Linked DNA regions of Homo sapiens. The protein of the gene in region 5 purifies or fractionates together with the protein of the main gene of each other region. This does not show direct contact. Each region holds a gene or a part of one and is shown on either strand. Other genes may lie near its edges. The genes, in order: STK39, ZDHHC18, FGFRL1, FAM171A2, KLRG2, PPP3CA and PPP3CC.

Evidence for each region.
Region 1: the proteins of KLRG2 (region 5) and STK39 purify together in Homo sapiens (affinity purification with mass spectrometry; 2 studies listed by BioGRID and IntAct, with this or other methods). This does not show direct contact.
Region 2: the proteins of KLRG2 (region 5) and ZDHHC18 purify together in Homo sapiens (affinity purification with mass spectrometry; 2 studies listed by BioGRID and IntAct, with this or other methods). This does not show direct contact.
Region 3: the proteins of KLRG2 (region 5) and FGFRL1 purify together in Homo sapiens (affinity purification with mass spectrometry; 2 studies listed by BioGRID and IntAct, with this or other methods). This does not show direct contact.
Region 4: the proteins of KLRG2 (region 5) and FAM171A2 purify together in Homo sapiens (affinity purification with mass spectrometry; 2 studies listed by BioGRID and IntAct, with this or other methods). This does not show direct contact.
Region 6: the proteins of KLRG2 (region 5) and PPP3CA purify together in Homo sapiens (co-immunoprecipitation; 3 studies listed by BioGRID and IntAct, with this or other methods). This does not show direct contact.
Region 7: the proteins of KLRG2 (region 5) and PPP3CC purify together in Homo sapiens (affinity purification with mass spectrometry; 2 studies listed by BioGRID and IntAct, with this or other methods). This does not show direct contact.

The regions. Positions count from the first base shown.
Region 1 is NC_000002.12:168,142,580-168,146,804, forward strand, and holds part of STK39 (STE20/SPS1-related proline-alanine-rich protein kinase), read right to left. Parts: intron 1-4,225. UniProt on the Homo sapiens protein: Effector serine/threonine-protein kinase component of the WNK-SPAK/OSR1 kinase cascade, which is involved in various processes, such as ion transport, response to hypertonic stress and blood pressure.
Region 2 is NC_000001.11:26,829,380-26,833,604, reverse strand, and holds part of ZDHHC18 (palmitoyltransferase ZDHHC18), read right to left. Parts: intron 1,159-4,225; coding exon 998-1,158; intron 1-997. UniProt on the Homo sapiens protein: Palmitoyltransferase that catalyzes the addition of palmitate onto various protein substrates, such as CGAS, HRAS and LCK. Acts as a negative regulator of the cGAS-STING pathway be mediating palmitoylation and inactivation of CGAS.
Region 3 is NC_000004.12:1,021,388-1,024,998, reverse strand, and holds part of FGFRL1 (fibroblast growth factor receptor-like 1 precursor), read right to left. Parts: intron 2,797-3,611; coding exon 2,524-2,796; intron 1,359-2,523; coding exon 1,278-1,358; intron 1,183-1,277; coding exon 898-1,182; intron 689-897; coding exon 335-688; intron 95-334; coding exon 1-94. UniProt on the Homo sapiens protein: Has a negative effect on cell proliferation.
Region 4 is NC_000017.11:44,353,717-44,357,941, reverse strand, and holds part of FAM171A2 (protein FAM171A2 precursor), read left to right. Parts: intron 1-1,353; coding exon 1,354-1,512; intron 1,513-1,589; coding exon 1,590-1,769; intron 1,770-1,867; coding exon 1,868-1,984; intron 1,985-2,100; coding exon 2,101-2,227; intron 2,228-2,750; coding exon 2,751-4,209; 3' UTR 4,210-4,225.
Region 5 is NC_000007.14:139,452,375-139,456,599, forward strand, and holds the end of KLRG2 (killer cell lectin-like receptor subfamily G member 2), read right to left. Parts: intron 1,841-4,225; coding exon 1,737-1,840; intron 1,334-1,736; coding exon 1,213-1,333; 3' UTR 316-1,212; downstream 1-315.
Region 6 is NC_000004.12:101,340,302-101,344,526, forward strand, and holds part of PPP3CA (protein phosphatase 3 catalytic subunit alpha), read right to left. Parts: intron 1-4,225. UniProt on the Homo sapiens protein: Calcium-dependent, calmodulin-stimulated protein phosphatase which plays an essential role in the transduction of intracellular Ca(2+)-mediated signals. Many of the substrates contain a PxIxIT motif and/or a LxVP motif.
Region 7 is NC_000008.11:22,524,274-22,528,498, forward strand, and holds part of PPP3CC (serine/threonine-protein phosphatase 2B catalytic subunit gamma isoform), read left to right. Parts: intron 1-3,118; coding exon 3,119-3,244; intron 3,245-4,225. UniProt on the Homo sapiens protein: Calcium-dependent, calmodulin-stimulated protein phosphatase which plays an essential role in the transduction of intracellular Ca(2+)-mediated signals. Dephosphorylates and activates transcription factor NFATC1.

The DNA.
Region 1 (4,225 bases), on a different chromosome or scaffold from region 5:
TACTACCTGCTTACATTACACATTTTAAAAAGTTAGAAAACAGCCGAAAAAGATGTATAGTAGCCATTTATTATTGACAATACCCTTTCAATATATCTGTAATGATACATACATTCAGAGCCTCCACTTTGAACACTCACTTTAAAGTCATAAACAGATGGCTAAATGTCTTTAAAACTCAGAACAAAAATTTCAGGAGCAGAAAACAACAATCCTAATATCTACTCCCTCTATGACTACAGAAGAAATATACAATTTGCTCCTATGTACGGCTGATGTGTATACAGATTATATGTACTCAGTAACAGAACATTTTGAGCAAAGTACATAGTGTGCTTATGTTATATACACAAAAAATTGGTATATTATATTGAGATAGCTTGCATATGACAGTTAGAACAAGGTGGCAGAACTGTAACAGTGAAAAGCTGTCCTTGTTTCCTAAGGGGTACATCTATACAGCCAAAGGGAATGCAGCCAGATTCACTTGGGTACAAAACCACAGACATTTCTCTAGAAACACAGAATCAAAGGCTACACATAAAGTTAGCCAGTCCATCTCCCTGCCTCCAGGAATAACTGGAGGATATGGGTAAATGCTGCTTTAAGAAAAACAACAACAACAACAAATAATGCTGTCATCCTAATAACAAAAAGGGTCTAAGACCTTCTGAATCCATCCACTTCTTTGCTCCTCCACAGCCACTGCCTTCATTTAATCCACCACTACTTCTTGCTAAGATTTCTGCAGCAGCCTCCTAAGTTCCCATCTCCCTTCTTTCCCCAGATCCAGGCTCCAGCAACCAGGCCTTTCTATGTCACAGGCCTGAGCCCTCCTTAAAAGACTTTCAGGACAGGAGCGGTGGCTCATGCCTGTAACCCCAGCACTTTGGGAGGCCAATGCAAGTGGATCACGAGGTCAGGAGTTCAAGACCATCCAGGCCAACATGGTGAAACCCCATCTCTACTAAAAAAATACAAAAAATCAGCTGGGCCTGGTGGCACGCGCCTGTAGTCCCAGCAACTCTGGAGGCTGAGGCGGGGGAATCGCTTGAACCCAGGAGGCGGAGGTTGCAGTGAGCTGAGATCATGCCACTCCACTCTGGCCTGGCAAGAGAGCAAGACTTTGTCTCAAAAAAAAAAAAAAGTCTTTCAAGGCTCCCTGTCCCCTCAGGAAAAAGTCAAAATCCTTCAGCATAACACGTAAACCTATATCACTACTCTCAGATTCAGACAGTAAGCTCCAGCCTACTGAATGACTTACTTTTTATTCCCTGATCCCATCACCTCCTTGGCCTCACCAGCATTGCCCTTGCACATGATGCTTTGTCGTCTAGGTACATCAACCCTCCATGCTGAACAGGTGCACCAGCAGAAGGCTTTCTGCATGACCTTGTTAATGACACAGCATCTCCGGCACCCTGGCTCTTGGTGAGTAATTTGATGTGCATTCATCACCTTTGCGTAATTTGATTTCAGTAACATTGGTCATGGTCTAGTTTTGATGTGTGAATGCTACTAAGCCTTGAGGAGGATCTGCAGGTATGGTTATCTGATTTGGAGAGTGGCAGATCTACTAGGAAACATTACAGGACTAATGGGCAAGATCTGAGTGTTAACAGTGATTAGGCCTAAGGCTAGACTATTACCCAACTGTATGACTCCCGAAAGGGACTTAAACTTTCTGGGCCTTATTGGGCTTCTTATTTAGGCCTATTTTTATTTATTTATTTTATTTTTTTGAAACAGAGTCTCGCTCTGTCGCCCAAGGTGGAACATAGTGGCATGATCATGGCTCACTGCAGCCTCAACCTCCCATGCTCAAGCGATCCTCCTACCTCAGCCTCCCAAGCAGCTATGACTACAGGCATGTGCTACCATGCCCATCTAATTTATTTTTATTTTTTGTAGATATGGGGTCTCTCTATGTTGCCCAAGGTGTTCTCAAACTGTTGAGCTCAAGCGATCCTCCTGTCTCAGCCTCCCAACGTGCTGGAATTATAAGCATGAGCCACCATGCCGAGCCTCAATTTCTATATTACTTTCATATTTATAAGACTCATTTTTTTTTTTACCATGTATGACTATTCTTTATAACAACTGTTAGGTAGATCGATAAGCTACTCACTGCCTTTTCATAAGCAAGGCAAGCAGGCTGAGGGGATAAGCATAAATATTTTACAGTGGCAGAGATAAAATAGGAGAAGACATGTTTCTTGACTTCAACAATATTTGTCGGGCATGATAGTTCATTAGGTGGGTGCGGTGGCATGCAACTGTAATTTCAGCTACTCAGGAGGATGAAATGGGAGAATCGCTTGAGCCCAGGAGGTCGAGGACGCAGTAAGCCATGATCATGCCACTGCACTCCAGTCTAGGCAACAGAGTGAGCCCGTCTCAGAAAAAAAAAAAAAAGAATATTCCCACCTAAGTAGGATAAGATGTATAAAATCAAATACTATATTGTCTGTGTAGAAGCAGAGGAGCTATAACCATAATGGTCATAGAAGACTATCTCCAAAGTGGGTCTTGGAGCCAGCCTTCAAGATGAGGTGAAGACTTGGATGAGCAAGTCCAACAGGAAACAAATTCCAGACAAAGAAACGGCATGAGCAAAGCACAAGTGTGGAGCCAAGAAGAAAAACTGACAGCTGCAAGGGTCAAAAACTCAAAACACCTACAGCAGCCAGGCAGGAATACAATGGAGAAAAGAGGGTCCTGAAAAACAACAGCTACAGTCTCAGTGACAAGGGCCCTTGATGCTCAGTCTCTGTGACGGGAGACTTTAGGAGTGCTGGGCCCTGTGTGAAGCCCTGGAGCCCACTGTCAGCACCCTCCCACCAAGGTCCAAGGCAGGCCCCTGCTGCTTGGCACCAGAAGAAAGTTGCCATAGAGAAATGTAGACCCAGGATTGCTGGATATCCCAGTTTTCCCAAAAAAGCCAAACATTGGAATCTTTATGAAAAAGCTCCCTTTCTTACTGTAGTTGGCAACAAATTCATTTTTAAAAAAATAGAAAAGCGATTTCTCCTGCCTAATTTAGTCCGCAAAACTAAAGTCTGCCAACTGTGTGGTTATGATGTCTAAAATGTACCTAAAATACTTCAACATATGCCATGTGATATTATGTTTGTGATACCACAACCTAGGTGGTCAGCTGGCATTCTAACCAAGAATGTCCAGTGCTGGGGGGGTTCTGATAGCACTCGACTCAGGATGCCAGAGGCAGCTGCTGGAAGTATTTCTATTATCCAAATCTAAATATAGATGAGCATAAGCCAGGTGACTGATTGTCCAAAGGGGTTATTATTAGGGAAAACAGTGACCTGTTGAGAGGTATGATACATGTTAGAAATGGGCTTTCACTGCTGAAAATAAAGGTTCTTAGCACCAGAGAGTGGCTAAAATATTTTAGATATACTCCTTACTCTTGCATGAACAGAATAAAACAATCCAGTCCAGTCCAACTGTAGACTATACCCTAGCCAGTTCTGTGGATGGTTGGATTCCTAGTAGCAAGCATAAGGATAAAGCAAAAACTGCATCTGGAATCTTGGCATGTCTGCCTCTAATGAATTTTTCATTCACCTATGAGGAAAAAGAACTGGGATTTCCTTGAGCTTACAGAACAAATTGTGAGAACTGTTTAGGGGCTTGCTTGCTAATGAAGGGCAAAATTTGGTCTGAAAGTTGATTTCTCTAAAACCTGTAAGGGAAGCTGTGGGTGAGTACCCAAGCCTCACCTACCTCAAACTTCTACAGTATCTGCTATTCTCTTTGAAAAGGAACCTGAGTTGTGCATGAACAACATTGACTCTCTTTGATCAGAGAGTAACGGGATCAATGTTTGAGAGTTCAGAGCTTCCTAAAATGTAGCTACAATGAGTTAAAAGAGACACTGATGCCTAAGTGGCTGGGTGGGAGTCTGGAGCAATAGGAGCCCCCATAGCTTCAGGGGACCCTGAGAGTTCTTTCCTACAAGCAGCTTCTTTTCCACAGAGGCCATTATTTTTAAAAGCAGGGAAGTACTGGGTGAGATTGTTGAGGGGCCCAACCAACCACAGAGTCTGAGCACCAGGTAAGGGAATTTGTACCTGATTCAATTAACAGCTGTTGTTCCCTCTCTCGTTAGAGAAGAACAACATTTGGAAAAAGTGACCATGCAGGGATGTTCAAGAAAGGAAAAAGACTAGAAGCAGAGAAGACCACAACCATAGCCCAGGAG
Region 2 (4,225 bases), on a different chromosome or scaffold from region 5:
GGAATCAAGGGCCACCTGGGCTGCCTGGGAGCACAGGGTCTTTCCAGCCACTGCCGTTCCTCACACACGCCCAGGCTGTTTGCCACTCTGGGCTTTGGCCTTACTTTTCCCAGATCCCCGTATTTCTACCACACTCATCTCCAGTGCCGCCTCCTCCTAGAGGTCTCCCCTGACCACCTGACCTAAACTAGCCCACTCCCCAACACCTACTGGGCTCTTCCCTAGATAACCCCACCGTCAAGCCCTCATCTGTTCAGGCCGGTGCTTCTTTGCTCAGATGTCACCTCCTTCACAAGATGTTCCCTGGCCACCCTATGTAAAATCACACACCCTCCCTGTAGCCTTCATCCTCCTTCCCTCCTTTCTTCTCTGTCTGATATCCTAGATATTTAATTATTTGTTATTTATTGTCTCTTTCCTCCTCCTCAACTGTCAAGCTCCATGAGGACAGGGACTATTGTCAGTTTTGTTCACTGCTGTATCACATCTAGAAAAGTGCCTGGCACATAGTAGGGGGTCAATAAATGTTTGATGAGTGAATGAATAAGTGTATATGAATGTTTAAGAGCAGGTGCTCTAGACTGAGGTCTCATCTCAGCTCTTCTACTTACTTTGTGATCTTGGACCCTCTTTTGCCTTGATTTAATTAATCAGTAAAAGGAGAATGACAACAGTACCTACCTCATAGGATTACTGGGGGATTAAATAAGATCATGCATATAAAGAGCTTAAAACAGTGCCTAGCCCCCAGGAACTACTCAGCTCCACGCTGGCTGCCATCGGGGCCTTTGCTGGCTGGCCAGCATTTCTTGCTTACTTATTTGCTCACTTGTTGATCATCTGTCTCCCTCTGTGCCAGTGTCAGCTCCAGCCTGCCTTGCTCACGACTGCATCCCCAGTTCCTAGTATAGTTTTGGAAGAGAAAACCAGGCCTCCTCCCAAGTCAGGGAATGTGGAGCTATGGAGACCCAGCTTCAGCTGGGAGTAGAAACCTCACCGATCTGTTTCTCCAGGGCGGCTGCTTCACAGACAGTGGCCCGGGGCAGGATCCCAGGGTCGGTGAAGCTTGTCTGCAGCAGGCAGCTCATGACGAAGAAGAAGAGGATGGCAGCGATGATGGGGATGGCAAGGGTCAGCTTGCGAGCCAGGTAGGGACAGCTAGAACGAGAGATGGAGAGAGATCAGCAGACACCCCAAGGGCTCCCTGCGGCACAGGGCTACAGCACGTGGCAGGCGCTGTCATTCCAACAACCACCACCAAAATCTTGAATACAGCCTCGCTCTGAGGCAGAGGCACAGCTCCTTGATGAGTGCAGCCACTCCCCAATAAGTACCGGGAACAGACATCACTAATTGATCCTTGTGATATACTTTCCTCCAGAGCACATGGCAGATGTGTCCAATAGATCCCAGCACTCCTAACCTCTGCATCCAGAGAATCCCTCTACACACAGAGCTTCAGGCAGACACTAGTGGACTGTCACCTGAGACAAACCATCCTGCAGTGTTCATTCACTCATTCATTCACTCACTCAGTCCACAAATATTTACTGAGGTCTTCTCTGTGGCAGGCAACACCTTCAATAAGCAGCAGGAATAATGACGACGGATAAGACAAGAGTCCCTCCCCCTTGTGGCTTATGGTCTAGTGGGGAAAACAAGACATGTAAACAGGGAATTGCCACACAGGGTGATGTGTGCTCTAGTGGGGGAGGGGAACGCAGTAGCACAGTCAGGAAAGGCAACCTGAAGGAGACAATCCTAAGCTCCAACCTGAAGAATGAGTAGAGGGCTGGGGGAACTGCATGGTCCAGCCACTGTCACTGTGACCCAAGGTAGGCAGGTATCCCCAAGGCAGTGCTTTCAGACCCCCTGACCCTGGCTGCCTCAGAGAATAGCCTGTGCCTGCTGAATGGTCATGCCTCTGTCCCCCAGGGAGGCTGCCTACCACAGCCCTCTTCAAGCTCCCTCCTCCATCTTAGGGCTAGAACATTCTAGAAGTTCTGGACACTGGTGGGAGAATGGCTTCATGATAGTGAAGCTATCAGGGCTCTCTCTCTATGGCCAATCCTCTCTGTTGTCACCTCACTGTCCACCCAGAAGCCAGAGCCACTTTTGGAAATGTCAATCAGATCATGTCATTTCCCTGCTTAAAACCTCCCAATTGCTTTCCATATAGTTTGAATACAATCCAAACTCCCTACCATGGCCTTCTAGGCCAGGCATGATCTGGGCCCTACTGAGGACTTCAGCCTCATTCTACAAAACTCTCGTCTTGCTCCTGCTCCTCCCATCACAATAGCCCATGACAGTTCCTATAACAAGCCTGGCTCTCTCCTACCTCAGGGCCTTTGCACTTGCTGTTCCTTTTCTCAGATTCCTCTTCCCTCCTCAGAAGGACCTACCTTGACAACTCTGTACACAGTGAACTTCAATGCTCTTTCTTTCCTGTATAACATTTAGTATAGATTTCAGCTACTTGTCTATGTGATGGCTATTTTTCTCTCACTAAAACATAAGCTTGGCCAGGCGCAGTGGCTCACGCCTGCAATCCCAGCACTTTGGGAGGCTGAGGTGGGCGGATACCTGAGGTCAGGAGTTCGAGACCAGCCTGACCAATAAGATGAAACCCCATCTCTAATAAAAACAGAAAAATTAGCAGGGTGTGGTAGCATGTGCCTGTAATCCCAGCTACTCAGGAGGCTGAGACAGGAGAATCACTTGAACCCGGGAGGCAGAGGTTGCAGTGAGCCGAGATCGTGCCATTGCACTCCAGCCTAGGCAACAAGAGCAAAACTCTATCTCAACAACAACAACAACAACAACAACAACAAACAAACATAAAAAAACATAAGCTCCTCTGTGGGTATAGACTATGTTCTCTTGTTCAGCTTTATATTTCCAGCACACTGCACAGCACCTGGCACCAAGGACGTACCCGGTAAATAACTGCTGCCAGGGGACAGAAAAATAGCTACCATCTTTTGAAGGCTTACTATGTGCCAGACACTGCCCTAATTAATAAACTACTGTTAGCAACATCCAAAGTACAGATAGTTACTGTGCTATGTACAGATAGTTACTGTACTATGTAGATAGTTACTGTACTATCTACAGATAGTTACTGTACTACTGTACCTGGATGGGCCAGGTACCAGGCTAAGCAGTTCCTGTGTACTTTCTCATCAAATCCTCACTGGGACCCTGTGAAGTTATGCTCCCCACTTTACAGATGAAGAAACTAGAGCTCAGAGAGTTTAAGTAATCTGCCCAAGGTCACATGGCTCAGGAGTGCTAAAGTGGGACCCAAGCCAGGTCTGACTTTGAGGTTCATACTTTTAACCATCACCCCATAGCCAGAGTAGCACCTGATCAGGTAAGGAGATGACGGGGCCCTGGGAGGCCTGAGATCAACCAAGCTTCCAGGAGTGGCACAGTAGGCACACACCTGTGGGCACCTGCATGCTGCTTCTGAAGTCTCCGTCATCAGATGCTCTGGCCTTCAGAGAAGCCCTTCCCCTGAGGAGCAGACTGCCAAGGCCAAGGGCTCCCAGTGGGTCACACTCTGCTCCATACATCTCAATGGTTTCTGGGTCTGACCCTCAAACAGAACCAGTGGGCGCTCAGTGTCACCCACATGGCAATGAATCCAGTTCATATGCAATCAGACTTGTGTGGGGGGACAGAGAAGACTTGAAATCTAAGACTTGTAGAGCCTGCAGGAACCACCAAGTCCTAGCCTCCTGATTTGCCAGAGGCTAACAGCTCTCCCAGGCCCACAGCTAGGTTCAAGGTCATCTAGCCAGCCAATGACAGAACTAGGGTTTCCAGCCTCCCAGCAAATACACTGTCAATTAATTCAAATACACTGTCAATTCATTCATTCAATAAGTATTGAGCACCTACTGCATACCAGGTGCGAGTTCTAGGCACTAAGGGTGCAACAGAGGAGAATGTCCTGCTCTCATGGGCAAAGACCAGAAACTAACAAGTATACCATAATATGTCAGGTGGTGGCAAATGCTTCAGAGAGCGATAAATGAGGGGAGAAGAGAGGTGCAGGAGGGGAGTGGTTTGCTATGCTGTGCGGATGGACAGGGGAGGCCTAATGTGAGAGAGTGAGCCATGAGGCCACCTGCAGGAAGGGGATTCCAAGCACTGGCCCAGAGGTAGGAGTGTGCACGGAGGATGACATGCCTGGAGGGAAGACGGGGACAGAAGACAG
Region 3 (3,611 bases), on a different chromosome or scaffold from region 5:
AAGACAGCGCCGGCTGGGATGCCGATGACCACGGGCCACGGCAGGCTAGTGGCCGAGGACGAGGAGGCCACAGGTGGCCCTGGCGGTTTTGGGTCTGCAAGAGCGAGAGGAAAGGAGGTAGGGAGGGGAACGCCGACACAAAGACCAGGAGAGCACCCCAGACCCATCCCAGGGGCTGTGGAGACGGTGCCCCTGGGCTGCCCTCCCTCGGCAGATGACCTGGCCAGCACGGCCCGGGAGGGAAGGGTGGGGCCCCACCCGGTGGGTGGGACGCCGGGCCCAGGGGGCGGGTCCGGGCACCAGCATGGTGTGGCGTGGCGTGGCAGCCGCGCACCTGGCAGCACGGTGAGGAAGGCGCTGCGGAAGCTGTAGCCCATGGTGTTGGCGCCAAGGCAGATGTACATGCCCGCATCGTCCTGGCGGGCACGGGTGATGAGCAGCTTATTGAGGTAGGAGCCGTCGGGCCGCGACCACACGTCACCCGTGGGCAGCACCACAAACTTCTGGCCGCCCACATCGATGGTGGAGTTGTGGCGGCCCTCGGCGCCGTACTCCACGCGCTTCAGCCACTGGATCACCGGCTTCACGTCGCTGCGCACCTTGCACTGGAAGGACGTGGTCCCCCCGAAGTCCACCGTCGTGTTCACGGGGTGCGTGCCTGTGAGCACGGGCTTGGAACGGGTCCGCTCTGTGGGAACGTGGCACGCGGGCATGGCTCCTGGGCCGCGCCGGACTCTACCCCGCCAGCACCCTGGGCCCACCAGCACCCCCAGCCCACCACCCCCAAGCCCTGCCAGTGCCCCCGCCCACCAGCGCCCCCGCCCACCAGCACCCCCGCCCGCCAGCGCCCCCGCCCACCAGCACCCCCCGCCCGCCAGCGCCCGGGGCCACACTCACGGATCACATCCACCTTGTAGGTGGCGTTGATGGCGCCCGCGCGGTTCGACACGCGGCAGGTGTATTTGCCGCTGTCCTCCGGCCGCAGGTTCTTCAGGCTCAGTGTCCACTTCTTCTTCCTGGGCTCAGCGGCCTCTGGGCGCGTCAAGGCCTGGTCGTCCTTCATCCACGTGATGTCGGGCCGAGGGTGCCCGCTGGCCACGCACTTGAGCCGCACGGAGCTACCCACGGGCCGTGCGATCACCCGGCGCCTCATCTTGGAGGGCTGTGTGAAGCGCGGTCGTGCTGCGGGGTGGGGTGGCGTGGAGGTCAGAGGACGGGGATGCAGCCAAGGGGCCGGGACAGACGGACGCCCCCCACCCCCGTCACCCCCTGCTCACCCCACTGCTGGCTGGCGGGGTCCTCTTGACCCCCAGAGGAGCTGTCGGGCCCCAGGCTCTCCTTCCCTGGGCTAATGTCATCTGCAGAGAGACGGAGGTGCACAGGGAGGGCAGGTGAGGGGGGCCCTGAGGAGCTCCCCCAACTCCCCCGTGGCCTCTAGCTCCCCCAGCCCCAGCCGGGACAGCCCTGGACACCCAGGCAGGGGGCTGCGCCACACACCCACAGCCCAGAATCCCAGGGACAGCTGGGCAAGGGCCGCTGGCCCACACTGGGCGCAGGTGACCCTGATGGGCACGGGTGGGGCTGGAGGGCCGGCCCCCATTCTGGCTCCGGGGGGTCTGCAGGCCCCGGGGGAGGAGGGAGCCGGGCCCGGCCAGCAGCTGCAGTAACCCTAGCCTACATCAAGGGGCCGAGGGCTGGTGAACAGACGAGACTCTCATACCACCCGGTCATCGTCCCCTTTGAAAGGACTGTGGGGTGGGGGTGGGGGACAGCCAGTTTTCCCATTCCACACAATGCCGAGGGGCAGGGCGTGCTGTGGAATGTCCCCTCCATCCACCCTGTGACAGCCGCTCCTTCACTGAGCCCAGGACCAGGCTGTCTCAGGCCGCACCCCCAGACCCTGCTGGGGCCTGGGCCAGGCTCCTGTATTCAGAAAACGGGCACATGTACCCTAAAACTTAAAGTAGAATTAAAAAAAAAAAAGAAACGGGCCAGCCCAGCTCCCAGGAGCTCCACCCGAGGGCCCCACACCCAGGAGCCCAGCGGAGCAGGCGGGGTGCCGGGTCCCTAGGTATGGAGGGCGTGTCTCTCTGGACACCTGTCCAAGCCCAGCGCCCGGGCCCCAGGCGCAGAAGAGAACAGAAAGGCCACGCATCCCGGCGGCTCCTCTGAACTCCGAAACCCGAGCCTCAAAGTCACAGCCGACGGCCGGCACACCCTGCCAAGGCCTCGGGCCCCAGCCCTTCTGTGGGACCACTGCCTTCGGCTCCCGCCCTCCACCCTCCGCCCTCCGCTGGGAGGAAGGCTCCGAGGCTGGAGCCTGACGGGGACAGGAACGGGACAGGATACCTGGGGGATGGTGGCAGAGGTGCAGCCAGCTGAGGTGGGGCAGGGCACCGAAGGAAGGCTTTCTGCCGGGGGCTGGCTGACTCTCGGGCCCCAGGTGTGTCCCCGTCCGCCCTCCTGCACACCCCTGCCTGGCTCCAACCCAGCCCATGACCTCTGACCGCAGCAGCGACTAACCCAGCACGACGAGGGTGTAGTTGACGCTCAGGCTGCCGAAGCCGTTGGTGGCCTTGCACACGTACACGCCGGCATCCTCCCGCTCCACCTGCTTCACCTTCAGCCCCTGCGGCAGCACGCGGAAGCGGCTCCAGCCGCTGTGGATGGTGCGGCCATCCTTGGTCCACATGGTCAGCGGCGGCGGGTCCCCCTCCACTGGGCACTGCAGCCGCACAGTGCGGCCCAGCCGGGCCACCTGCCGTGGGACCACCTTGTCCGCCATCTTTGGGGGGCCTGCGGGTGGGACCGAGGAACAGTCAGCGAGGAGGGGCTTGGGGTCCGGAGCCGGGGGGGCGGTCAAAAGGGGACCCACGGCCCAGCACAGACCTCGGGCCTGAGCTCCACCTGGGTCACCTGCCCAAGATGAGCAGAGGGGCCGAGGTGCAGTGCCCCTGACCCAGGCCTCAGCTGCCCACATGCACCAAAGCCCTGAGCACTGGCCCAGCAAACACCACGTCAGCAGCCTCTCATGGCCGGGGCAGCCCCGTGGCCCCAGAGGCTGGCTCTTTGAGACACGAGAAGGGAGCAGGGTCCCCAGAGGATGCAAAACAGCTGCGCTTGGTAACTCTCGAAAACCACCAACCAAAAGGGCAGAGTCTCCTTCTGGTCATACAGGAAGCAGCCGTACACCCGAGGTCAGAGGGGACAGTGGCCCCCCAAGGACAAGGGCAGTAGGGGGATGGGGGGCCTGGTGGGTCCCAAAGAGGCCCCAGGCCCCTCACCTAATTCCCACCCAACCATCAGCCCAGGGCCCAGCCGGGCCTGGGCATGGGCCAGCGACCCCACAGCTATCCACAAGCAACCGAGCACGGCGGGCTGCCTGAGCCTGTGCAATGTGTGGATGAGAGTCTGTGCAGCACCCACGTCTGTGTCAATATCAGACCTGAGTTCAGGGACCACAGATGCCCAGGTCTGTCTGCCCACCCCCAAGGGCCGTACCCTGCCAGGCACCTTAGCCTTGAGGGGGCATGACCCCAAGGCCCTGGGGTCAGAGAGCAAGCCTCTGGAGAGACGTAGCTCGGGCTGACCACGGGCACTGCCGCTCCTGT
Region 4 (4,225 bases), on a different chromosome or scaffold from region 5:
CATTTCTGCACCTCTAAAATGAGGTTGATAATAGATACCTAGCTCAGGGGCTATTTTCCTAATTGCAGGGGTTAATATAGGTAACCTGCTTAGAACAGTGCCCAGCATAGCTTAAAGATTAATAAATGTTAGCTGTGACCATATTGTATTGGAATTGTTTGTATGTCTGTCCCCTCCACCCCAACACACACACACACACACACACACACACGACCTAAACTGTCTAATGCAGTAGCCACTAGCTACATATTAAATTGAAGTAAATTAAATTAAAAATTCATTAATTTTTTTTTTTGAGATGGATTCTCACTCTGTTGCCCAGGCTGGAGTACAATGGCATGATCTTGGCTCACTGCAACCTCTGCTGCCTGGGTTCAAGCGATTCTCCTGCCTCAGCCTCCCGAGTAGCTGGGATTACAGGCGCCTGCCACCGCACCTGGCTAATTTTTGTAGTTTTAGTAGAGATGGGGTTTCACCATCTTGGCCAGGCTGGTCTTGAACTCCTGACCTCGTGATCCACCTGCCTTGGAATCCCAAAGTGCTGGGATTACAGGCGTGAGCCACCGCGCTCGGCCTTTTTTTTTTTTTTCTTTTGAGATGGAGTTTCGCTCTTGATGCCCAGACAGGAGTGCAATGGCACAATCTCAGCTCACCGCAACCTCCCCCTCCCAGTTTCAAGTGATTCTCCTGCCTCAGCCTCACGAGCAGCTGGGATTACAGGAATGCACCACCACACCCAGCTAATTTTGTATTTTTAAGAGAGTCAGGGTTTCTCCATGTTGGTCAGGCTGGTCTCCAACTCCTGACCTCAGGTGATCCACCCACCTTGGCTTCCCAAAGTGCTGGGATTATAGGCATGAGCCACTGCACCCACCTAGAAAAAAATCATTACATTTTTAAAAATTAAAAATCCAGTTCCTCAGTCACACTAGCCACATTTCAAATGCTTAACAGCCACGTGTGTCCAGTGGGTACCATAATGGGCAGCACACCTAGAAAACATTCCCATCACAGCAGACGTTCATCTTTGGGCCCCCAGTGTCTAACCTGGTGCCTGCCACATAGTAGACAATACTGTTTGAGGATCTGGATCGCAACATTTTATAGGTTCTATAAGGAAACTTTCTACTAAAACAAGTAAATTGCTGAGGGTCACACAGAGATTTCAGGTCCATGTCCCTTCCAGGTTAACATTCCATGACTGCCCAGCTTTCTCCCCAAGGCATCACCCTCCCTGGCCTTCCAAAGTGGCCTGACCTCATGTCCCCCTTTTCCTTAGATAATGGGTTTCTGCTCTGGTCCCTGGGGATCCCTGTCCATGGTCAAGCCACTGCAGCCCCTCTTTCCCTCCAGGTGCCCGCTCCCAGCCCTTGGTGCAGTTCCAGCGCCGGGCTGCCCGCCTGCCTGTCAGCTCCACCTACAGCCAGCTCTGGGCGTCACTTACGCCTGCCAGCACCCAGCAGGAAATGCGGGCTTTCCCTGCCTTCCTGGGCACTGAGGCCTCCAGCTCAGGTAGGCTGGGTGCCCAGCACGGATGGGGTCTCCCCAGGCTCAGGATCAGCCCTCAGCCCTGTACCCTCTTCCCTCAGGCAATGGCTCCTGGCTGGAGCTGATGCCCCTGACTGCTGTGAGCGTGCACCTGCTGACAGGTAATGGGACAGAGGTGCCGCTCTCAGGCCCCATTCACCTGTCCCTGCCCGTGCCCTCCGAGACTCGTGCCCTCACCGTGGGCACCAGCATTCCAGCCTGGAGATTTGACCCCAAGAGTGGTAAGTGCCTCAGGGGGCTGCAGGTGCTTGAGTTGAGAGAAGAAAGTGGGACTTGAGTGGGAGCGACTCAAGTGTGACAAAACCCCTGCCTCTCCCAGGGCTGTGGGTGCGCAATGGCACTGGTGTAATCCGGAAGGAAGGCCGGCAGCTCTACTGGACCTTCGTCTCCCCCCAGCTGGGGTACTGGGTGGCCGCCATGGCCTCCCCCACGGCTGGTAAGAGTAGTGGGGCAGTGGGCGTAGAGGCCGCGGAGGAGGGGAGCTGGGAGAGCAGACTTCTGAAAGGCAGGAAGGGTGTCTACACCTGAACGCTAAGCCCTCGCCTGGCACAGGGCTGGTCACCATCACGTCGGGCATCCAGGACATCGGCACCTACCACACCATCTTCTTGCTCACCATCCTGGCAGCCCTGGCCCTGCTGGTGCTTATCCTGCTGTGTCTGCTCATCTACTACTGCCGGTGAGCACGGGGCTTCCCTCACCCTCCCCTGCACTTGTACCGGGCCCTGGGGCCCCAAAGATGCATAAAATCCACTTCTGGTCCTCAAGGGGCAGACAGGAAAAGACTTCCTGCAAACATGCTAAGACCTGAAGGGCTGGTGCTGGTGGTTGAAGACAGCGGGGAGGTGGGAGGGGAGGCAGGGCTTAAGGACTTGCAGCCCGGCCCCTCCAGAGAGATCTGCCACTGCCCCTACCAGCCCAGCTCTCTCTCCCAGAGGACTCCAGGCCGGACACACCCATAGACAGCTTAGATGCTCATCCCTGGTTCTCGCAGCACATCCTACATGCAGAGGAGTGCAGAGTTGACCCTGAGGGGATCGCCAAACGGACACGGCGGCTCCCCGCCATCTCTCCTGAGCGCCCCAGGCATTCTCCCCACCTCTTCCACTATATTCGTCTCTTGTCTTGCATCTAAGGGGGTTCGGGGCCTACTTTGGCCCTCACCCTTTCCTGAGCGGCCCCTTCTGCTCCCTCCCTTCCAGGAGGCGCTGCCTGAAGCCGAGGCAACAGCACCGCAAGCTGCAGCTCTCGGGGCCCTCTGACGGTAACAAACGAGACCAGGCCACCTCGATGTCCCAGCTCCACCTCATCTGTGGGGGACCCCTGGAACCCGCCCCGTCGGGGGACCCCGAGGCTCCGCCTCCAGGCCCCCTCCACTCGGCCTTCTCCAGCTCCCGGGACTTGGCCTCCTCCCGGGATGACTTCTTCCGCACCAAGCCGCGCTCTGCCAGCCGCCCGGCCGCCGAGCCTTCGGGTGCCCGCGGGGGCGAGAGCGCCGGGCTCAAGGGCGCTCGCTCGGCCGAGGGCCCCGGCGGGCTGGAGCCCGGCCTAGAGGAGCACCGGCGGGGGCCCTCGGGGGCTGCGGCCTTCCTGCACGAGCCGCCCTCGCCGCCGCCGCCCTTCGACCACTACCTGGGCCACAAGGGGGCGGCCGAGGGCAAGACCCCCGACTTCCTGCTGTCGCAGTCGGTGGACCAGCTGGCGCGGCCGCCGTCGCTGGGCCAGGCGGGGCAGCTCATCTTCTGCGGCTCCATCGACCACCTCAAGGACAACGTCTACCGCAACGTCATGCCCACCCTGGTGATCCCCGCGCACTACGTGCGCCTCGGCGGCGAGGCGGGCGCCGCCGGCGTGGGCGACGAGCCGGCCCCGCCGGAGGGCACGGCACCCGGCCCGGCGCGCGCTTTTCCCCAGCCCGACCCCCAGCGCCCGCAGATGCCGGGCCACTCGGGCCCGGGGGGCGAGGGCGGCGGGGGCGGCGGCGAGGGCTGGGGGGCCGGGCGCGCGGCGCCCGTCAGTGGCTCAGTCACCATCCCTGTGCTATTCAACGAGTCCACCATGGCGCAGCTCAACGGGGAGCTGCAGGCCCTGACCGAGAAGAAGCTGCTGGAACTGGGCGTGAAGCCGCACCCGCGCGCCTGGTTCGTGTCCCTCGACGGGCGCTCCAACTCGCAAGTGCGCCACTCTTACATCGACCTGCAGGCGGGCGGCGGGGCACGCAGCACCGACGCCAGCCTGGACTCGGGCGTAGATGTCCACGAGGCGCGGCCCGCGCGCCGCCGGCCCGCGAGGGAGGAGCGGGAGCGCGCCCCGCCTGCCGCGCCGCCGCCGCCGCCCGCGCCCCCGCGCCTGGCGCTCAGCGAGGACACGGAGCCCAGCAGCAGCGAGAGCCGCACGGGCCTCTGCTCTCCGGAGGACAACTCGCTGACGCCGCTGCTGGACGAGGTGGCGGCGCCCGAGGGCCGGGCGGCCACGGTACCCCGGGGGCGGGGCCGCAGCCGCGGGGACAGCTCCCGCAGCAGCGCCAGCGAGCTGCGGCGCGACTCGCTCACCAGCCCGGAGGACGAGCTGGGGGCGGAGGTGGGCGACGAGGCGGGAGACAAGAAGAGCCCGTGGCAGCGGCGGGAGGAGCGGCCGCTGATGGTGTTCAACGTCAAGTAGCGCCCGCGCAGGGCCT
Region 5 (4,225 bases):
ACCACCATGGCATGTGTATACCTATGTAACAAACCTGCACGTTCTGCACATGTACCCCAGAACTTAAAGTATAATAATACTAATGAAAAATACAGTGTGAGAAATTTCTCCCATCTAGGACTCTCCATCCCATTCTCCCAGACGGCCCATTACTGGTTCAAACGCACCAATAAGGATTTCTGTTTGGGAGGGATCTGGGTGCATGGTCTGACTTTTGAGGGAAGGCTGGCTTGCAAGGGCCAGTTGAGTGCGTGCTCAGCACCAAGCCAACACGCAGGCCCAGGCTCCTGCTGTTTGGAGGTCTAGCTGGACTCAAGGAACTACACAACTCTGTCAGCCACATCCTCCAGCCTGAAGGTCTTCACTGCACCCCAGCATGGAGACATCTTCAGGTTGGTCGTCTCTGCAGCTGTGGGTAGAAGAGCTGCCTGGAACGTGCCTGCATTTCTCTGATTTCCTTTTTCACTCAGACTCCTCAGCTTCCACCTACCAAGCTGGGGTGCTCTCCTGGCTTCTCCTGCCAGGTGGCCCTGTCCTCTCTGCCTTGTCTCACCCTTGGGCATCAGCGTGCCAGGGGCTGGCCAGCCCACATGCGGGATCTCCACCCAGAACCTTCCTGTCTGCCAACCCTTTGCCAACTCTCAGGGTGGGGAAGGAAAACCTTGCTCTCCCCTCTTTCCAGGGCTGACCGCTCCTTTTCCTTGGTTAATTTTCCAGAGGCTGCCGGTAGGCTGTGTCCGATGTACACCCAGCTGCCTGAAGTAGAATTCACAGCAATGACGTTATCCCTGCCAAGTCCCACTGCCACTGAACAACGGCAGACTCATTTCCATGAGCCGGAATGAGAACCCAGATTGGAATCCGCTGTGGTTGTTAACCCTGTCTTTTTCCTCTAGGGGGAAATTGTCATTTTAATGAAACCAAGGCACAGAAATGCTAAACAACCATCCCAATGTCATCAAACCGATCATCCACAGAAGCTGGAGACTAATATTGGCACTCAGGCCTGAGGCCATAGAAAATCTCCTTTCCCTCGGATGCATCTTCCTGGGTTGAAGTCCAGCTCCTAGGCTCGCTCATGTGGCCCCCTTGAGCAGAGCATGAAGACCTGGATAACTGGGTCCAGGAAGAGGCTGCCCAAGCTCTCAACTGGCCTCCCCTGTAGGGGGTGCTGCATCTGCCTGGCAGGCTGAGGACCAGGCAGAGCCCAGATCACTGGGTCCCCTTGGCACAGACCCAGGGTCTTGGAGTGCTGCAGTTTGCAGCCACCAGCGTGCCTTCCTCCAGGGCCCCACAGTTGATATCCAGATTGTCCTCGCCGTCCTCAGGGAGTCTGGGAAAGGATGGGAGGGGAAAGAGGAGAGGTGTTTAGGGTGCCGGGGCCTTGCTTCCCAGCCAGACCCTCCAGCGTGTGTGCCTGTCACCTCTACCGGCCTGGGCACTGAGTGAGTCACTGCACTGGTCAGCCACGTGGCACTGGATGAATCCCCAAACCTCCCTGGGCAGCTGACCCCGCATCTGTAAAATGGGGGTGACAACCCTGCTTGGGTGAACGTGCTGGGAACCCAAATAAAGAGTGAAGCGACAGGGTCTAATCAGGCACCAGGCCGCGAGCATGGGCGTGGGCTGCTTTCCAAGTGGCATTCCAGGCTAGGGGAGCAGCAAGGAGGTGGAGTCTGGGGAGAAATGGAGGATCCAGAACAGCAGAGGAGGGAGAAAAGCCCGTGGTCACTCACAGCTGGGGCGGGAGTGGGGCCTCGTCGATCCAGTGCCAGCCCTGGGGGCCTCGCCAGGCCCCCACCCAGGAGTGCCTGGAGACTGGGTATCTGCCCAGGAAGTCCTGAGGGAGAAAAGTAAGCTGGTCACTCCCCTGGACACTGGCGTGGCTTGCCTGGGGCGTACGGATTCCCTGGGGCTTCCACAGGATCCCAGCTGGCCAATCCAGAAGGATCTGCTCAAGCCAGCACTTGCAGAACAAAAAAACCTTGAAAGCTGGATTGGATGCCTGCTGGGTGCCAGGTTCTGTGCTCAGGGCTGGGGGCCAAAATGAGGGTGACCCCGTCTCAGCCAAAGGGATGTGAACGCCAAACACCACTAAGTGATGCTCAGTGGGCATTGAGTGGGCAAAGAAACAAGGAAGCTCAGAAAGCGAGGGAGGTGGTCAGGCACGGTGGCTCATGCCTGTAATCCCAGCACATTGGGAGGCCGAGGCTGGCAGATTACCTGAGGCCAGGAGTTCGAGACCGGCCTGTCCAACATAGTGAAACCCCGTTTCTATTAAAAAAAAAAAAATTAGCTGGGCATGGTGGCGGGCGCCTGTAATCCCAGCTACTTGGGAGGCTGAAACAGGAGAATCGCTTGAGCCCAGGAGACAGAGGTTGCAGTAAGCCGAGATTGCGCCACTGCATTCCAGCCTGGGCTGACAAGAGGGAAATTCTATCTCAAAATAATAATAATAATAATAATAATAATAATAATAATAATAATAATAACACACGCAGATGTGCAGGAACAACAAAAACCAAAGTAAGTGTGCTGGAGAGGTACTAGAGGAGACTTTTTTCTTTTAAATATTTGCCCTCAATGTCACACTATTTTTAACAATGAATTAAAGCAAAAAAGACAATGTTTTAAAGTATATATTTAAGATTTTTTTTTTTTTGAGATGGAGCCTTGCTCTGTCACCCAGGCTGGAGTGCAGTGGCACGATCCTGGCTCACTGCAGCCTCCGCCTCTCAGGTTCAACCGATTCTCCCGCCTCAGCCTCCTGAGAGGCTGGAACTACAGGCATGCACCACCACACCCAGGTAATTTTCGTATTTTTAGTAGGGAAGGGTTTTGCCGTGTTGGCCTAGGCTGGTCTTGAGCTCCTGGCCTCAAGTGATCTGTCCATTTTAGCCTCCCAAAGTGTAGAATTAGTGGTGTGAGCCACTGTACCCGGCCAAGATTTTTTTTTTTTTTTTTTGAGACAGAGTCTCGCTCTGTTGCCCAGGCTGGAGTGCAGTGGCGCGATCTCGGCTCACTGCAAGCTCTGTCTCCTGGGTTCACGCCATTCTCCTGCCTCAGCCTCCCGAGTAGCTGGGACTACAGGCACCCGCCACCATGCCTGGCTAATTTTTTGTATTTTTAGTAGAGATGGGGTTTCACCGTGTTAGCCAAGATGGTCTCGATCTCCTGACCTCGTGATCCGCCTGCCTCGGCCTCTCAAAGTGCTGGGATTACAGGCGTGAGCCACCGCGCCCGGCCAAGATTTTTTAACTTGGAAAAAAAAGTTTAAATCTTTTAAGTCCCAGGGTGGGGACGTGGTGGAGGGGGCAGTGATGCCGGCACGGCCCGCATCAGCTTGTTCTTTCTGAAATGTCGTTTGGTGCTATGTGACAAGAGCAGCACCACCACTCCTGCTCAAATGGGTGATTTCACTGAGAAATAAATCCAAGAATATAAAGGGAAAAAAATGAACTTATCTAAAGATAACACGGTGCTATTTGTGAAGAAAAACTGGAAACTCCCCAAACGCTCAGCAATCAAGAAATAACAAGGTAAATTATAGGATGTCAACATGATGGAAAATTATAGTGCTATTAAAAATGACAAGTGTATAGAAAATGTCATTATGCAGGAAAATGTAAATATGAAATCATGCCATGTAAAAAAAAAAAGACTACACTAGCAAGTACATATCACTCACAACAATGTCAAGAAGCACATATTCACACTGAGGCAGGTTAGGAGCAGAGCGGTATAAATGAATTTCGCATATGCTCAGTTCTTCTTCCCTAAGAAAATGGTTTAAGTCAACAAAGACAAGCCCTGGGAATTAGAGTGATGATTGTCCTGTTGCTGCCACCTCCTCCATCCTTCAGAACTGATTTAAAGGTGGCTTTTTTAACGGACACTGGGCTGACCCTCTCCAAGGTGAAATAGGTGCTCCTCCCTCCCCTTGGTTTCCACAACTTTCACAGAATAGAGCTGTCTCTTTTTTATTTTTATTTTTTTAATTTTTATTTTTGAGACGGAGTCTTGCTCAGCCACCTAGGCTGGAGTGCAGTGGCACAATCTCGGCTTACTGCAACCACCGTCTCCCGTGTTCAAGGAATTCTCCTGTCTCAGCCTCCCAAGTAGCTGGGATTACAGGCACCTGCCATGACGCCCAATTTAGTAGAGATGGGGTTTCACCATGTTGGCCAGGCTGGTCTTGAACTCCTGACCTCAGATGATTCACCCA
Region 6 (4,225 bases), on a different chromosome or scaffold from region 5:
AAACAAAAAGGACAGCAAAGTTCTATTCCTCTCTATGATGGTCTCAAAAAGAATCTACCTGAATTCCAAAAACATAGCATTTTAATAATTTATTGCCACTTTGTCAGTGAGGGCTTTTATTTTTTTAATATCTAAAGCTTCCACTACCCGAGTGCATATTTGTTAAAACGGATTTGAGATACCAGCAACTGGGCTAGGTCATAAAGTTGATAACCCATCTGATTTAAGCCATTATTCAGAACCCCTAACCATGGAGGAATACACAATTGTTATTTCACTTCTCATATGAAATATAATTGATGGATTCATATAAAAGATGGAATTATTGTAAAATAAAATGATTTTAAAATGCTGAAAATGTCAAGAGTACTAAAGACTTAATTTACAAACTGAAATCCTATTTCATTGCCTACATCAGTCCTACCTAATGACTGCTTTAAAAATAGGAATGCAACACCTCAGAATCACTGGCTGATATTTTCACCTGAGCCTGCTCTAGAAATTAACAAAATCATCAAATCTGAAGATTTTGTTTGTCAAACCAGAGCATCAGTGTGGGTCATTAAGTGGAGTTCAGAAAAACAGGCTTAAGACAACATCCTTCAAAATGAAAGTAAATAACATTCTTTTGCAGGAGAGTATACTATTCTATTTCTGTGTATATATTTACCTGAACAGAAAGCAATGTTTAACAGTATTTCTTTATAAACCTCAGGCCAAGGTCAGACTAAATTATAATATTTATCACCAGAATTTGATGTCTGCTAAAAACAGAAATATAAAAAGCTTCCTCTCCTAATCAAACTATTTTACATAGTTAATTATTTAGTAAAACAAAATGCGAAATGAAATGTGAAGATATCTTAAATATACCAAAAGAAGTGGCCATTTTCTTTTTTTCTTTTTCTTTTTTTTTTTTTTAAGAGATATGGTCTTGCTATGTTGCCCAAGCTTCCACCTCAGCATCCCAAAGTGCTAGGATTATAGGTGTGAGCCACCACACCTGGCCAGTGGCAATTTTCAAAAATGTTTTCAAGCAAGAAAAGCCTCTTTAATAAAGAAAATAATGTGTTTACACTTACCTGTAACCATTCTATCTATTCTGTCTCCACTTCTTTAACTATAAAAATAAATGTCATCATAAGCTACTCTTGACCCAAGGCACTCATGGCTTTCAATGCTAATGGTTCTGACTATTCTCAGGTGACCAGAAAATACATAACACGTGTCATTTCTAATTCTGTGTTAGCAGTGACTGAATCGCCATTACCAGGCAGTGGACAAAGTGTTAACCACACACTCCCCATTTCCCATTTGATTATCCTTCGGTCCTCACAAGTTGACAGTGGATACAATTACTCCCCTTTTATGTATAGAGAAAGTTAGCCTGTGAAGTTATAACATATACCAGTGGAATTACAGAAAGCTGAAGTTCAAGGTCTCACCATATCCCTCTTGTATATCAAGAGACTGCTACATCAGAAAGTTGCTGGAAAAAAATTGACAAAATGATTTTTAGTAATTATCAAAATTCTATATCATGAATCACCACCATTCTTCATAGTTCTAGAAGTATTCAAAATGGTAATTTAACCATATTTGCTAAAAGGAGAGTGAGTATCTGCAAAAATGCTGTTTTCCAATGAGGTCACCCTAAATGGATTCTTTATTTGGTGTCATAATTAGTTTCAAATTTACACATAGCTGACACAAAAAAAGATAAGGAAAAGCATGAGAGGCCAATTACAAAAGTTATAAATGAATGGTCTATCAAAATTATATTTCATCTCGCTAAAATTACAAATAAAACAAAGAGACAAATAGATTTTAAAAGGCATATTTTTAAACAAATCTTAGAGTAAACCTCATTAATTAGATTCTAGATGTTAATTTTTTCCTATTTTAACTGGATGTCTTAAGATAAACTGTCCATTTAAAATAAGGGTTCTATCCCACACTTCTCAGAAAAACTATTATCTTCAAAATGTTGATTATTCTAATTGATGGCATTTTAGAATCACTGGAATTCCCCTGAATCCCAGTCTCAATTGTTGCATTAATCATTAAATTTACTGAATGTTTTTACAACAATGCACTTGTGTTATATTCACTTTATAATAGTCCCAAAAGGAAATGTTAATAAATAGACCAACCTAACTCGTAACGAACAGGATGAATTTGCATACTGTTCACTAAGTATTGAAAAGAATTTGTTCTCTTGGTATATTAACAATGCTGGAACTATGTTGTTTATACTTTTTGGTTATCGGACCCCTTTCTTCACATCCAATGCTGATGTAAACTTCAGCCAACAAACACTGGTGTTTTTTCACAATAAATTTAAATTCATGATATTGAATTAATAAAGTTTCACTATACTCAAATTGAAAACCAGATACATGAAACTCAACTGATGGTAACAAAATGTCAGTAAAATAAATTCACAAGCTCTTCCTGGAACACCACAAATAAATGACATTATTTACTACTCTGTTGCATCAAGGTCTAAACACGACAGTTACTACGAATGTGACATATTTGTTTTCTTTTTAAGTAGTATTATCAGTCTCACCCAGCTAGAAATACTAGTGGCTGGAATCCTTATTTACTTAATAATACTTAACTAGCATCTTCTTGCTTCTATGATCTTAGCATCTTTCAGAATTCTCCTATGTGTACTCTGTCTACATGAAGTACGTAAGCTGGCAATACACCTGAAAAACAGCTCATTCTCTATGGCCAAAAGCAACCTTACACAAAGCACAACAACGCATTATCTATAGTTTCTGAGAGATTCCACAAAACTCTTCTCAGAAATTTATCCCTCAACAGCCTCCCATAGTTTCTAAAATTTCTACCATTACCATCGGTTTGAGTTAAGGTAGAAGTCCCATCACAAAATACTTGGAGATGGGAACAGAGGGAAGGTAGGTTAAGAGATTTAACAAAGCCAAATACTCATTATCACATAGGGTTTAATTTCCTCTAAGTATTTTTAACTATCACATAGCAAAGTTCCATGACCAATAGGGAATGCTAGGGCCAGACAAAGCATTCTAGGCAGGAACAGAGAGAAATGAAGAAAAGCCAAAGTTTGAGACAAGGCCTGTAGAGTATCACTAAGAGAAAAATCAGGACGGGGGTCAAGGGGAGGAAGACAGTTATTCTTCTATTTATTGCCCTCGGTTTGCTGTATGTATCTTTAAAAATATAATGTAAAGCAATAAACGGACCATATTATTTTGATTTCCAGCAAAGGTCATTACCAAGATGTTTTCTCTGAATTTTTCTACTTTCCATTGTTTTAATCCAAGAAGAGTCAAAATGATACAGCACTAGTTTTGCTAACTGAAGTAACTTTCTCTCCTGGGATAATCTAAACAAATACTTTTCATCTCCACTGCCATCATTCTCTTTCATTTTTAAGGTTTAGAAAACCGATCAGGGTCTCTGAATACATGCTAGCAGATTCTATAAACCTCAAAAATAACATAGTTGAGACAGACTCAACCTACGTCTCTAAAGCTGCATTCTAAAAGTACAATTAAGAAAACAGTCACATCATATTACTACAAACCACAAGCACATCTTTATTTGTAAATAGCAATTTCTTATACAACAAAAGCCAGATGACACTAATAAATATAACTGTAAGCAAATGCCATGGCATGCCATGGTAATAACAATCTGAATATTTATTTTTGTATGTATATATAGTAAATAATACTACACATACTTCGTAAAAAAGAGAAAACTTATGGAGCACAAATACTTCCTCAAAGATAATTTCTTTTCTGTATTAAAGAATGAGTTAAATAGCCATTGAGATGAAGTTCTAACAAAATTTCAAGTAAATAATGGTTTCTAAACTCCATATTATCTAATTTTTGCAAATTAAATCACTTGTTAATATGTTTCACATCCAGCATACGCGTACTTTCCATTCATTCAGTACGTGTATACATACTCAAGGGGAAATATTATTTCACAGAAAGCTAATAATCAAAATAGATTATCTCAAATAACTAATAATAAAAATCTTATGTATGACAAAAGGTTGAATCCAACCTTGTATAATGCCTTTCATGCCAATAATATTCTACAAGAAAACAGGATAAACAATAACAGTGTATCCACCTTAAAATCAGGATTCATCAACAAAACTTCTATAAACAAAATTTCACATTTCACATCTCACATCAGGATCTCTATCAAAACAAATGCA
Region 7 (4,225 bases), on a different chromosome or scaffold from region 5:
GTTTCAAAGATGGCCAAAATATAATTAATATTTACTCTATTTAAAAGTAAACCATGGAATGGCACATCTCATTTAAATCCGATTTGGGTCAGTCATTTTAGTGTGTCCTCCAGTGACTTGTCTATTTTAAAAAGCATGTCTTTAACTTAAGTTCTGTCCTAGTCTTATGTTTTCATTTAACTTAGCATTCTTCTCTGAGCCTTATCTGTCCTACAATGCTCTGCTTCTCCCTAAGTTCATTTGTTATTTCCTTTTTCCTGATATTTCCAGTATATTAGCAACTTAGGTTTTATTCTTATTTATTCTCTTATCAATGGTGTGGACTGTTTGTGTTGTTAAACGTCTTCAAGGACTCTTGTGGCCCTAGATCTCCTATTTGTAATGAAGGTGTTTCTTTCTCACTTTCTTTTTTAACTTCATCAAAAAGAGTATCTATTGATTGCTCAATGGATTTATCAGTGTGCCAAGCTGAAACACGCCACCTAAGTCAGCAGGCACTATACAGCTCACTCACTGCTAGCTTGTTTTTTGTCTCAATCTAACCTGGTTTTGTTCTTGATTATTTCTTTAGCAAACTTTTAACATCACAGTCCTGGCCAGGCACAGTGGCTCATGCCTGTAATCTCAGCACTTTGGGAGGCCAAGGGGAGGATCACTTGAGGCCTAGAATTCAAGACCAGCCTGGGCAGCAAAATGTGACCCCATCTTTACAAAGAAAAATTTAAAAGTTAGCCAGGCAAGGTGGAGCATGCCTATAGTCCTAGCTACTCAGGAGGCTGAGGCAGTAGGATCCTTTGAGTCCAGTAGTTCGAGGCTGCAGTGAGCTGTGATCACACCACTGCATTCCAGCCAGGCAATAGAGCAAGACCCTGTCTCTAAAAAATAAAAAAAAAAGTAAAAGCCACAGTTCATTCTACCTGAGTATTCTGTCGGCTTTGACATAATTAGTAACTTTTATCTCAAAACAGTCTTATTTTCATTGGTTGTTTCTTAGGCATTTTAGAAGGAAAAAGGCAGAAAATGTGGCATTTGAAACAGTCCCTGGGGGTACTCAGTTACTCCCCATACAAGTGCCTTCTTTTCTGAAAAAGGGAACTCTATTATTCTTTTTCTTCTTCCTTTTCTTCTACTGTTGCTCTTCTTTCTCTTTCTCTCTTTTCTTTTCTCTCTCTTTCTCTCTCTCTTTCTTTTCTTTCTTTTTCTTTCTGCTTCCTTTTCTTCTTTCTTTCTTTCTTTCTTTCTTTCTTTCTTTCTTTCTTTCTTTCTCTCCCTCTCTCTCTCTCTCTTTCTTTCTCTCTCTCTCTCTTTCTCTCGGTCTCTGTCACTTAGGTTGGAGCACAGTGGCAGGAACTTGATTCACTGCAGCCTCGACTTCCTGGGCTCAAGTGATCCTCCCACCTCAGCCTCCCAACTAGCTGGGACCACAGGTGCATGCCGCTACACCTGGCTAATTTTAAAATATTTTTTATAGAGATAGGGTCTCGTTATGTTGCCCAGACTGGTCTCAAACTCCTGAGCTTAAGCAGTCCTCCTGCCTCGGCCTCCCAAAGTGCTGGTATTACAAGTGTGTGCCACCACACCTGGCCTCTTTCATATTATTTTTTTTTTTTCAGAGACAGAGTCTCACTGTGTTGCCCAGGCTGGAGTGCAGTGGTGCGGTCTTGGCTCACTACAACCTCTGCCTCCCGGGTTCAAGCAATTCTCCCGCCTCAGCCTCCCGAGTAGCTGGGACTACAGGTGCACGTCGCCACGCCTGGCTAATTTTTTTTATTTTAGTAGAGACGGGGTTTTACCATGTTGCCCAGGCTGGTCTCAATCTCCTGAGCTCAGGCAATCTGCCCACCTCGGCCTCCCAAAGTGCTAGGAGTGCTCTTTCATATTCTTTAGACTTCTTGGTATCTACAGGTATTTCCTAGTTCCACTAGTTACACGAAAGACCTTTAATCATGATTTTTAAAGATTCTTATTCTTGTTTTCTTCTGTCCACTGGGAACACACCCAAAAGCAGTTTTATAAGCTCTTGTTTCCAGTCATTCACTGTTGAGACTCACCTCCCACTTCTTTTTCCTGGGTAGAAATTGAGGGAGTTGTTGAATAATGATATATGACATATTTACCTAAACTAAATAAAATACATACACGTGAAAATAATGGAACATGTACATCATAGCCAGTGTTAGGCTTTTTAAGTGCTAGAAACTATATTTTAATTTATTTTCTTAATAATATATGGTGTACATTTTAGACATTCAATAACTTAAATTTTAAGAACACTAGATTATCCTGTAGCAAAGAAACAGGAATGAGGACGTGACCTATATCTGTCATTTCTGGAGAACTGTTACACCCTGTTTTATTTTATGACCACAGAATAATTAAGAGAATAGTGCAAACAACATTGCTGGTGATAAAGGCTAAGGAATTGGATTTTAAGACTTTCAAAATATAAAGAAAATCAGTTTGGCATCAAAGTATGTGTGCGACTATCTGAATGGTTAATATTAAACATAGCATGCTGGCAATACACTGCTGTGTATTGGAGAAATCGGCAATTTTAAAATCCGCTATATTGAATACAGAGATGACTTAATCTAATTTTGAACATTTAATTGTAAATTGCTCCAAGTTTGCCATTTGTATCTTCCAGTATGAGTTGATAACTGCAATATATAAACTCCCAGAGAGTGTATACAATCTTTGACTCTGGCTAATGACTAGCAAAACAGGCTGTGTCCATTTAATGAGTAATTTTTGCCTTCAAAGGAGAGTTGTAATTATAACCATTTGGCCTATAAAAGGAAATTATGGGGAAATTTTCCTCACGTGGATCTTGAGGTTTATATAGATAGTTACTGTGCAGTGACTCCAAAGTTTCAGTTTCTTTTGTACTTTTATTATATGAGCTCTTCAGGTAACTTTGTTCCTTGGAATAATTCTTAAGAGAATGAACTGAATAAAAGGCTTTAAAATTTTCCATCTGCCCTTTACCTAGTCAAGTCCTGACTTTACAAATGGAAAGTTCTCGAATTCTGTGTAGCAGGTACACAGCTGTACAAAGCATACCACTTGCCATGCCATGTTCCTCTGTGCCAGATTTTCTTGCTTTTTTCCTTTTTAGCTGCTGTGTTGAAATATGAAAACAATGTCATGAATATCAGGCAGTTTAACTGTTCTCCACACCCCTACTGGCTTCCAAACTTTATGGATGTTTTCACATGGTCTTTGCCTTTTGTTGGGGAAAAAGGTAAGAGAACTAAAGCACATGTCTCATCAGTTGTTTGGTGACTGAGCATACCTTATATTTGCATGAGCCCCTCCATGATTCAGAAATGTTTTCTAATTTTGTTTGTTCTCTACATAGATTTTTTTTTTTTTTTTCTGAGATGGAGTCTCGCTCTGTCACCCAGGCTGGAGTGCAGTGGCACGATCTCAGCTAACTACAACCTCCGCCTCCCAGGTTCAAGCAATTCTCCTGCCTCAGCCTTCTGAGGAGCTGGGATTATAGGCACGTGCCACTGCACCCGGCTAATTTTTGCATTTTAGTAGAGACAGGGTTTCACCATATTGGCCAGGCTGGTCTCAAACTCCTGACCTTAAGTGATCCGCCCTCCTCAGCCTCCCAAAGTGCTGGGATTACAGGTGTGAGCCACCGTGCCCAGCCTCTACATAGATTTGTAAATGGCATGTAATTGGTTCTTAAATTTTAATATATTATGGTTTTTTTATTGTAAATATCAATTTAAAGTAGCTGACCTACTATGATCAAGATGTTAAAATAACATAGTTACTTGTCATTCCCTCAGATTTCTTCAGTACTGAAGAGATTTAAACAGAATTTATTGTCCTTACAATTTTATTTGTACAGCTACTCAAATTAGCTAAGCCTGTTGGACGTAGGCCTGTTGGCTTAACTTTGTAAAGTGGGAAAAAAATTTTCTCACGTGTGTATCAGTGTGGGAAGAAGCTCTGAACAGCAATCCGGTAAAATCAAGTAATTAGGCAATAGATCTTCAAAGACTCCAGACTTTTACTGGAGCAAGTAATCTACCCAAATTCTTTTTAAACCTGAAAGTTTACATTTATGCTACTTTTTATAGCTATTCTTACTAACATAATGATAAATAATTTTTGCTTATGCTTACTTAACATGTGTGTTTATTTAGATATCCACATTATTTTAGAGAAAGTACCTCATTAATCGCGTAAATTTTGGATTATTTTGTCT